Homo sapiens: one gene and its partners. The protein of the gene in region 2 purifies or fractionates together with the protein of the main gene of each other region. This does not show direct contact. Each region holds a gene or a part of one and is shown on either strand. Other genes may lie near its edges. The genes, in order: FLYWCH2, LRRC41 and NSMCE1.

Evidence for each region.
Region 1: the proteins of LRRC41 (region 2) and FLYWCH2 purify together in Homo sapiens (affinity purification with mass spectrometry; one large-scale study listed by BioGRID and IntAct). This does not show direct contact.
Region 3: the proteins of LRRC41 (region 2) and NSMCE1 purify together in Homo sapiens (affinity purification with mass spectrometry; one large-scale study listed by BioGRID and IntAct). This does not show direct contact.

What each region holds. Positions count from the first base shown.
Region 1 is NC_000016.10:2,889,640-2,893,293, forward strand, and holds part of FLYWCH2 (FLYWCH family member 2), read left to right. Parts: intron 1-3,654.
Region 2 is NC_000001.11:46,293,474-46,297,127, reverse strand, and holds part of LRRC41 (leucine-rich repeat-containing protein 41), read left to right. Parts: intron 1-3,654. UniProt on the Homo sapiens protein: Probable substrate recognition component of an ECS (Elongin BC-CUL2/5-SOCS-box protein) E3 ubiquitin ligase complex which mediates the ubiquitination and subsequent proteasomal degradation of target proteins.
Region 3 is NC_000016.10:27,262,170-27,265,823, forward strand, and holds part of NSMCE1 (non-structural maintenance of chromosomes element 1 homolog), read right to left. Parts: intron 1-3,654. UniProt on the Homo sapiens protein: RING-type zinc finger-containing E3 ubiquitin ligase that assembles with melanoma antigen protein (MAGE) to catalyze the direct transfer of ubiquitin from E2 ubiquitin-conjugating enzyme to a specific substrate.

The DNA of each region.
Region 1 (3,654 bases), on a different chromosome or scaffold from region 2:
CAGCTAGCTACTTACCTTTAAAAAAAACTTTTTATTTTGGAATTATTTTAGCTTTATAGAAAAGTCCGAGAGGCAGTACAGAGTCCCTATAGATCTTCCCCACCCCCAGCTTCCCCTCATGTTAACATCTCATATAATAAATTATTGTTGGTACAAGACTACAGAACTGGGCACAGTGGCTCACACCTGTAATCAAGAACTTTGGGAGGCCAAGGCAAGCAAATCTCTTGAGGTCTGGAGTTCGAGACCAGTCTGGACGACATGGTGAAACCGTGTCTCTATTAAAAATACGATAATTAGCCAGGCGTAGTGGTGCGTGTCTGTAGTCTCAGCTACTTGGGAAGCTGAGGTGGGAGGATCACTTTGAGCCCATGAGTGTGAGGTTACAGTGAGCCATGGTTGTATCACTGCACTCCAAGCAATATACCAAGACCCTGTCTCTCAAAAAAAGAAAAAAGAAAACTAACCTATAGACTTTATTTGGATTTCATCAGTGTTTTCACTAATGCACTTTTTGTGTTCGGAGGTGTAATCTGGGATCTGATCCCACATTCATTTTTGTGTGCGTGTGTGTGTTTTTTTGTTTTTGTTTTTTTTTTTTTGTTTTTGTTGTTTTTTGGTTTTTTTGAGTTGGAGTCTCGCTCTGTTGCCCAGGCTGGAGTGCAGTGGTGAGATCTTGGCTCACTGCAACCTCTGCCTCCCAGGTTAAAGCAGTTCTTCTGTGTCTGCCTCCTGAGTAGCTGGGATTACTAGGTGCACAGCACCATGCCTGACTAATTTTTTTTTTTTTTTGAGACAACGTTCTGCTCTTGTTGCCCAGGCTGGAGTGCAGTGGCGCGATCTTGGCTCACCGCAATCTCCACCTTCTGATTTCAAGCGATTCTCCTGCCTCAGCCTCCCGAGTAGCTGGGATTACAGGCGCCTGCCACCACGCCCGGCCAATTTTTTTTTTTTTTTGTATTTTTAGTAGAGACGAGGTTTCACCGTGTTGGCCAGGTTGTCTCGAACTCCTGACCTTGTGATCCACCCGCCTCAGCCTCCCAAAGTGCTGGGATTACAGGCATGAGCCACTGCGCCCAGCCACGCCTGACTAATTTTTATATTTTTACTGGAGACGGAGTTTAGCCATGTTAGCCAGGCTGATCTTGACCTCTTGACCTAAAGTAATCCACCCACCTCAACCCCCCAGAGTTCTGGAATTACAAACGTCAGCCACCTCGCCCAGCCCAGATTGTCATCTTTGGAAATGCACTAAGCCCAGCCAACAATCAAGGGAGGGGACTTAAGCTCCATTTCCTGGAGGGGGAAGTGTCCGCACATACTGTTTAGAATTCCTCTTAAGGAAGATTTGTCCCTTCTCCAACATTTATGTATTCAGTTATTTGTATCAGCTTGGACTCATGGATATTTATTTTGTTATCTGGGTTATAATCCCGACCACTGGCTTCCAAGGCAGGACCTCAGCTCTGAGGATCAGTTTTCTTTGTAACTGGCATTTCTGACTTCAAGCATCTGCTGCCCAAGGCCATTGGCTCTGGACCAGGCCTCCATCTCCCCAGGGACAGAGTGGAGTGATGGGGACACTGGGAAGGGAGGTTGTTGGGTAGCAGTAATAGAGGTCATGGTTGACATAATAGGACTTTTTTTCCTGACTCAGGTCCCAGGTCAAGGACCAAGGATGTGGCTCTGGGCAGATCACTTCTGTGCCAGGCGCAGGCAGGAGGACCAGAGTGGCAGGGTTCTCTCTCTCTCTATTTTATTTTTATTTTATTTATTTTTTTTTGAGATGGAGTCTCGCCCTATCGCCCAGGCTGGAGTGCGGTGGCGCGATATCGGCTCACTGCAAGCTCCGCCTCCCGGGTTCACGCCATTCTCTTGCCTCAGCCTCCGGAGTAGCCGGGACTACAGGCGCCCGCCACCACGCCCGTCTAATTTTTTTGTATTTTTAGTAGAGATGGGGTTTCACCGTGTTAGCCAGGATGGTCTTGATCTCCTGACCTCGTGATCCACCCGCCTTGCCTCCCAAAGTGCTGGGATTATAGGCGTGAGCCACCGCGCCTGGCCTCTCTCTTTTATTTTATTTAATTTGTTTATTTTTTATAGTGATGAGGTCTCGCTATGTTGCCCAGGCTGGTCTCGAACTCCTGGGCTTAAGTGATCCTCCCGCCTTGCTCATGCTTCTGACCAGCCAGCTGCAATCTCAGGTTGCTATGACCCCTTCCTTGGGTTAAATCATTTCCTAGAGTGGCCCAAAGAACTCAAGGAAACAATGCCAGGCACGGTGGCTCATGCCTGTAATCCCAGCACTTTGGGAGGCTGAGGCGGGTGGATCACTTGAGGTTGGGAGTTCGAGACCAGCCTTGCCAACATGGTGAAACCCTGTCTCAACTGAAAATACAAAGATTAGCTGGGAGTAGTGGCCGGCGCTTGTAATCCCAGCTACTCGGGAGGCTGAGGCAGGAGAATTGCTTGAACCTGGGAGGTGGAGGTTGCAGTGAGCTGAGATTGCGACATTGCACTCCAGCCTGGGTGGGAAGAGCGAGACTTCATCTCAAAAAAACAAACTATTTACAGGCCAGGTGTGGTAGCTCATGCCTGTAATCCCAGCACTTTGGGAGGCTGAGGCGGGTGGATCACCTGAGGTCAGGAGTTCGAGACCAGCTTGGCCAACATGGTGAAACCCCATCTCCACTAAAAATACAAAAAATTAGCCGGGCATGGTGGTGCACACCAGTAATCCCAGCTACTTGTGAGTCTGAGACAGGAGAATATCTTCAACCCAGGAGGCAGAAGTTGCAGTGAGCCAAGATCACACCACTGCACTCCAGCCTGGGAGACAGAGCGAGACTCCATCTCAAAAAAAAAACACAATTTATCTACATTTACCATTTTATTATAAAGGAGACAGATGAAAATATAAATGCAGTCGGGCACAGTGGCTCATGCCTGTAATCCCAGCACTTTGGGAGGCTGAGGCGGGTGGATCACGAGGTCAACAGATCGAGACCATCCTGGCCAACATGGTGAAACCGCGTATCTACTAAAAATATAAAAATTAGGAGAGCATGGTGGCGTGTGCCTGTAGTCCCAGCTATGTGGGAGGCTGAGGCAGGAGGATCACTTGAACCCAGGAGGTGGAGGTTGCAGTGATCCGAGATCACGCCACTGCACTCCAGCCTGGCGACAGAACCAGATTCTGTCTCAAAAAATAACTAAAATTTATATATATTTTAAATATATATAATATATAATGTATATATGTCATATAATATATATTATATATGTCATATATATACCATATATGTTGTATATGTGTCATATATCGTATATAATATATATTATATATGTCACATATATACATATATTTTATTTATATATATACACACACACACACATATAAATGCAGCAGCACGTATGGGAGGGGCTCACTTTCCATTCCCACCCCACTCCCAACTCCCACACACCCGTCCAAGGACTCCATGTGTTCCTGGAAGCTCTCGGAACCCTCTCCTTTTGGGTTTTTATGGAGGCTTCATTACATAGGCATGATTGATTGAACTATAGGCCATTGGTGATCAACTTAACCTTCAGGCCCTCTCCCTTTCCTGGAGTTTGGAGGAGGGGCTGAAAGTCCCAACCCTCTAACCCTGCCTT
Region 2 (3,654 bases):
GAAGCCACTTATAACGACTATACCTTGAGCTGTGTGAACTAATGTAAATATAGTATAGGCTGAAGGACAAGGTGGACAACAGTCCTGCCTAGCTCTGCAATGGTCAGGCTACCCGTGGAGATTGGAGAAAGTCAAAGCCACATTATGTGAGTCACATTGGGACAACTGGAGATGTTTTTCCTGAAAAAGAGAAGACTTGGGAAACATGACCCATCTTGAAATATATGAATGGCTGTCACATGAAGGAGGGATTAATAGACTTGTTCTGGATGGAAGCTAATGGAAGATACATTTTTGCTAACCTGAAGTTTACGTAAAGCTTAAACCCTGAGCTTATGAAACAAGCTAATTCTAGAGGTAATAAACTTCCCATCACTAAGTTCAAATGGAGTCTGTGTAACTCCTTGACACTAGGGTGTTCTGCAGGGGATTCAGCATTGTAAAAGGGGTTGCACAAGATGACTTTTAGAGCTCCTTTTAGACCTGAGATTCTATTATTCACTGATACAGATATAAATCACTGGAGCTCTCATTTAAGCAGTTTCTTTTGCTGCCCCATAACTAGGTGATGGGGTAGATTTAATTCAATAAACATTTACTGAAACTTAACCAGGTACCAGATCTTACACTAGATATTGGAAGAATAGATGCAGCCTCTAATCTTAAAGACCTAACAGTTTTGTTTTGTTTTGTTTTGTTTTGTTTTGTTTGAGACGGAGTTTTGCCCTTGTTGTCCACGCCGGAGTGCAATGGCGCAATCTTGGCTCACTGCAACCTCTGCCTCCCGGGTTCAAGCAATTCTCCTGCCTCAGCCTCCCAAGTAGCTGGGATTACAGGCATGCGCCACCACACCCAGCTAATTTTTTTGTATTTTTAATAGAGACAGGGTTTCTCCATGTTGGTCAGGCTGGTCTCGAACTCCTGACCTCAGTTGATCCACCCACCTCGGCCTCCAAAAGTGCTGGGATTACAGGCGTGAGCCACCTCGCCCGGCAAGGACCTACCAGTTTAATAGGGAAATCTACAAATAGATCACATATGATAGGATAAGTGGTGTAATAGAGGATAGTAAGAAGGTTGAGAGAGAAGAGAATAAGAAAGTCTTTCCTAGGAAGTAGTATTTGAACTGGGCCTTCTATGGTGAATGAGGCCAAATAACAGGTGGAAAAAAAGCTAATGTCAGGAATTGGAGATTTAATTTCTGGGGATGCACTGGGTTCAGTAACATTGAACCCCATCTCCTTCGGCTTATTCACTTCCAAATCTGGACTGCAACCCTTGGCGTTCAGAATGAGGACAACAGACCTTATGAGGAAGAGAAGCAGACTCAAGAATATTAGAAAACAGTAACTGCTTTTTGCTATCTTTAAGGAAACATCAGATTCACTTTGTTCCAGTATTTCACAAGCACTAGAGTTGACCAGCAAGTGATAAAGATTATATTTTTCTCTTGGAGAAAGCTTTCTGTCTTCTTGGCTCAAAGCATTTCAGAGCATTTAGAGGCCCCAGGCTTGGTGGCCCAACAGTCAGTTAGGCAGAGGTCCTAACTTGGAGCATGTCCATTCCAGAGGGTGTCTTTCCGCTTCCCACTTTTGCATGACAATAGCCTTCAGCTCATAAGTCACAAACAGTTATTCAGTGCCTGCTCAGTTCCATGCATTATGCTAGGTTCCAGGGATACAATGGTGAACAAGATAAATATAGAATGCTTATAAAGCAATAGTATTTCAAACTGTGTAGTACTGGGGTATATAAAGAGATCTGTAAGGTCAGGCACGGTGGCTCACACCTGTAATCTTAGCACTTTGGGAGGCTGAGGCAGGTGGATCACTTGAACCCAGGAGCTCAAGGCCAGCCTGGGCAACATGGCAAGACTTTGTCTCTACTAAAAATACAAAGAACTGGCTGGGCATGGTGGCACATGCCTGTAGTCCCAGATACTCGGGAGACCAAGGTAGGAGGATCACCTGAGCCTGGGAAGTCGAGGCTGCAGTGAGCCAAGATCGCACCACTGTACTCCAGCCTGGGCAACAGGAGAGAGACCCTGTCTCAAAAAACTAACAAATAAAAAAAGATCTGTATAATAGAATAGATACTCTGGAGAAAAAGCAATGAATAAATTAAGATTTACCCAATAAATTATTCTCTAGCAATTGGTTAGCTATTTGGAAAAAGTTAAGTTAGAGCCTCACTTTACAGTATACTCTAATGACTTTTGTATAAACAATAAATTGTGGCCGGGCACAGTGGCTCACACCTATAATGCCAGCACTTTGAGAGGCCAACGCGGGTGGATCACGAAATCAGGAGTTCAAGACCAGCCTGGCCAACATGGTGAAACCCTGTCTCTACTGAAAATACAAAAATTAGCTGGGCGTGGTGGCACGTGCCTTTAGTTCCAGCTACTCAAGAGGCTGAGGCAGGAGAATTGCTTGAACCCAGGAGGCAGAGGTTGCAGTGAGCCAAGATCACATCACTGCACTCCAGCCTGGGCAACAGAGCAAGACTCCGACTCAAAAAAAAAAAAAAAAAAAAGAATTAGTTGTAAAAAGTAAAGGCACAAGAGTCGGGTACAGTGACTGACATCTATAATCCCAGCTACTCCAGAGGCTGAAGTGAGAGGAATAGCTTGAGCCTAGGAGTTGGAGGCTGTGATCATGCCACTACATTCCAGCCTGGGGGACAGTGCAAAACCACGTCTCTTAAAAAAAGAAAGAAAGGGCTGGGCGCGGTAGCTCACACCTGTAATCCCAGCACTTTGGGAGGCCAAGGTGGGTGGATTGCTTGAGCTTACGAGTTTGAGACCAACCTGGGCAACATGGAGAAACCCCGTCTCTACAAAAAATAGAAAAATTATCCTGTTGTGGTGTTGTGCACCTGTAGTCCCAGCTACTCAGGAGGCTGAGGTGGGAGGGAGCCCAGGAGACAGAGGTTGCACTGAGCCGAGATCACACCATCGCACTCCAGCCTGGGCAATAGAGCCAGAACTTGTCTTAAAACAAAAACAACAAAAAAGTTTCAACACCAAAGAATAGAAAAAAATAATTTAAAAAAGAATAAAACCAACAGGCAGGTGTGGTGGCTCACACCTGTAATCCCAGCACTTTGGGAGGCTGAGGTGGGCAGATACTTGAGGTCAGGAGTTGAGACCAGCCTGGTGCATATGGTGAAACCCTGTCTCTACTGAAAATCAGGCATGGTAGTGCATGCCTGTAATCCCAGCTACTCTGGGATTACTACTTGGGAGGCTGAGGCAGAATTGCTTGAACCCAGGAGGCAGAGGTTAAAATGAGCCGAGATGGCACCACTGCACTCCAGCCTCGGTGACATAGTGAGACTCTGACTCAGAAAACAACAACAACAACAACAAAACAAAATAAAAATACAAAAATTAGCCGGGCGTGGTGGCACACACCTGTAATCCAAGCTCCTTGGGAGGCTGAGGCATGAGAATCACTTGAACCCAAGAGGCAGAGGTTGCAGTAAGACTAGATCGCTCCATTGCACTCCAGCCTGGGTGAGAGTGAGACTCTGTCTCCAAAAATAATAAAACCAATAAACAAAAAAAAGTAAAAGCACAAATCAGGCCGGGTGTGATGGCTCATGCCTACAATCCCAGAAAAACGTTGGGATGCCAAGGTGGTCAGATTGCTT
Region 3 (3,654 bases), on a different chromosome or scaffold from region 2:
GGAGGCGGGGGTTGCAGTGAGCCAAGATCACGCCATTGCACTCCAGCCTGAGCAACAGAGTGAGACTTCATCTCAAAAAAAAAAAAAAAAAATCACATGGAACCAAAACAGAGCCTGAATAGCGAAAGCAATCCTAAGCAAAAAGAACAAAGCTGGAGGCATCACGTTACCCGACTTCAAACTACACTACAGGGCTAAACAGCATGGTGCTGGTACAGAAACAGGCACATACACCAATGGAACAGAATAGAGAGCCCAAAATTAAGGCCATACACCTATGACCACCTGATCCTTGACAAAGATGACAAAAAGAAGCAATGGGAAAAAGACTCCCTATTCAATAAATGGTGCTAGTATAAGTGGCTAGCCATATGTGAAGACTGAGGCTGGACCCCTTCCTTACAGCACATACAGGAATCAATTCAAGATGGATTAAAGACTTAAATGTAAGACCTAAAACTATAAAATCCCTGGAAGACAACCTAGGCAATACCATCCTGGACACAGGAACGGGCAAAGATCTCACGACAAAGACACCAAAAGCAATCACAATGAAAGCAGAAATTGACAAATGAGATCTAATTAAACTTAAGAGCTTCTGCACAGCAAAAGAAACTATCAACAGAGTAAACAGACAACCTACAGAATGGGAGAAAATATTTGCAAACTATTTACGAGAGAAAATCAAACAACCCCATTAAAAACTGGGCAAAGGACATGAACCAACATTTTTCAAAAAGAAGACATACATGTGGTCAACAAGCATATGAAAAAAAAGCTCAGTATCACTGATCATTAGAGAAATGCAAATCAAAACCACAATGAGATACCATCTCACATCAGTCAGAATGGCTATTATCAAAATGTCAAAAAATAACAGATGCTGGCAAGGTTGCAGAGAAAAGGGAAACTTATATACTGTTGGAGGGAGTGTAAATTAGTTAAACCACTGTAGAAAGCAGTGTGGCAATTCCTCAAAGAGCTAAAAGCAGAACTACCATTTGACCCAGCAACCCCATTCCTGGGTATATACCAGAGGAACAGAAATATTCTACCATAAAGACACATGCACGGGAATGTTCACTGCAGCCCCATTCACAGAAGCAAAGACATGGAATCAACCTAAATGCCCATCAATGACAGACTGGATAAAGAAAATGTGGTACCTATACACCGTGGAACACTATGCAGCCATAAAGAAGAATGAGATGATGTCTTTTGCAGGAACATGGATGAAACTGGAGACTATTATCCTCTGCAAGCTAACACAGGAATAGAAAACCAAATACCACATGTTCTCACTTATAAGTGGGAGTTAAATGATGAAAACTTATGAACACAAGGAAGGAAACAACAGACACTGGGGTCTATTTGAGGATGGAGGGTGGGAGGAGGAAGAAGAGCAGAAAATATAACTATCGGGTACTGGACTTAATTCTTGGCTGATTAAAAAAGCTGTACAACAAACCCCTATGACGTGAGTTTACCTATCTAATAAACCTTCACGTGTGCTGCCAAACCTAAGTTTTTTTAAAAAAGCATATGATCATCTTAATGATGCAGAATATACAATTGATAAAATTCAACATGTACCTACACCAAAAACAAATTTGGAATCGAAGAAAACATCTTTTATCTACTAAGTGACGTCTACAAAAAACCTGCAGCAAACATCATACTGAAAAATGAAATGTTGGCAGCAATCACTTTAAAAACCAAATTGACCCAATGCAATTGAATCAATGCTATTACAGTCAGCATCCCAAGAGGCTTTGTGTATGTGTGTGTGTGATTTGACAAGATGATTCTAAAAATTTACATAGAAAACACAAAGGCAAAACAGCAAAGACATTCCTGGGAGAAAATAAAGGCAGAAGGACTTGTCCTACCAGCTATAAAGACTTCTCATATTTGCTGGGCGCGATGGCTCATGCCTGTAATCCCAGCACTTTGGGAGGCTGACGTGGGCAGATTGCTTGAGCCCAAGAGTTCAACACCAGCCTGGGCAATGTGGTGAAACCTTGTCTCTACTAAAAACAAAAATTAAAAAAAAAATCGCTGGGCATGATGGTATGCACCTGTAGTCCCAGGTACTCATGATACTGAGGTGGGAGGACTGCTTCAGCTCGGGATGTCGAGGCTACAGTGAGTCATGATTGCACCACTGCATTCCAGCCAGGATGACAGAGTAAGATCCTGTCTAAAAACAAACCAAAACAAAAAAAGCACTTCTTATAAAGCTAGAGTAACGAGTACAGTGTGGTAATGGTACAGAGATAGACAAATAAGACCAATCAATGGAACAGAACAGAGAACTCAGAAACGGAAAGGTATACATATATGGATACTTGATGGCGGATGAAAGCAAACTTTCCAATAAAAGGTGCCAGGAAAACTTGTTATCCATATGTAAAAAAATGAATAAAATTTGATTCTTACCTCATACTATATACAAACATCAATTCTGAAGGGATAAGGTCATAATAAGGAAAAATACTGTAAGACTTTTAGGCAATATAGAGAATATATTTATCACCTAAGGGTAGGGAAGGATTTCTTTAAGAGATATAAAAAGTACAGGTCATAAAGGAATATACTGATAAACTTGACTTTTGTTAAAATTAAGGGCCTCTATTCACCAAAAATACCAGAAAGGTGGGGGTTAGGGGATACAAACTGGAGGGCATTTAAAACAAACATAAGCTACAAAATACAAAAGATTCATATTCAGACTATATAAGGAATTCCTACAAATCAGCATGGGAAACACAACTGTAAAAGAGAAATGGGCAACAGAAATTTTACAAAAAGAGGATGCATAAATGATGAATAAATACAGAAAAAAGATGCTCAATCTCAATGTTATCAGACAAATGATTATGAAAACCACAGTGAAGGAATGTCTTAGCCACCACCAGACAGGCAAAAATTTTAAAAGAATGGCTGAGGCTGAAACTTTCATCTGCTGCTGGGAGAGTATAAATTCTTTTCCTTTTTTTTTTTTTTTTTTTTTTTTGAGACAGGGTCTCACTCTGTTGCCCAGGCTGGAATGAAGTGACACAGTCATAGCTCACTGCAGCCTTGACCTTGTGGGCTCAATCGATCCTCTGACCTCAGAACCCCCTAGCAGCTATGACTACAGGCACACACCACTATGCCCGGCTAATTTCTGTATTTTTTGTAGAGATGGGGTCTCACCTGTTGCCCCAGCTGGTCTCATACTCCTGGACTCAAGCGATCCACCCACCTCAGCCTCCCAAAGTGCTGGGATTACAGGTGTGAGCCACCACTCCAGGCTGAGTATAAATTATTGTAACCATTTCAGATAACAGTTGATATTACTAGCAAATTTGCATATCCCCCGAAATCTACTATTAGGTATATACCTTACAGAAACTTCCACATTTGCCCTAGGAGATATGTTTTTACAGAAGCACCTTGTAATAACAAAAGTCTGGCAACAGTATAAATGCCTACCAACTGAAGAACTACATTAAAACAATATAATCATCCCATAGAATTCAAATCAGCAATGAAGACAAAGTAGAGCTCCTCACATCAACACGCATACTTCTCAGAAAGATAATGTTAAGTGCAACAAGCAAGTCACACAAAATATATTTTAGGATCCTATTACATAAAATCGAAAACTCA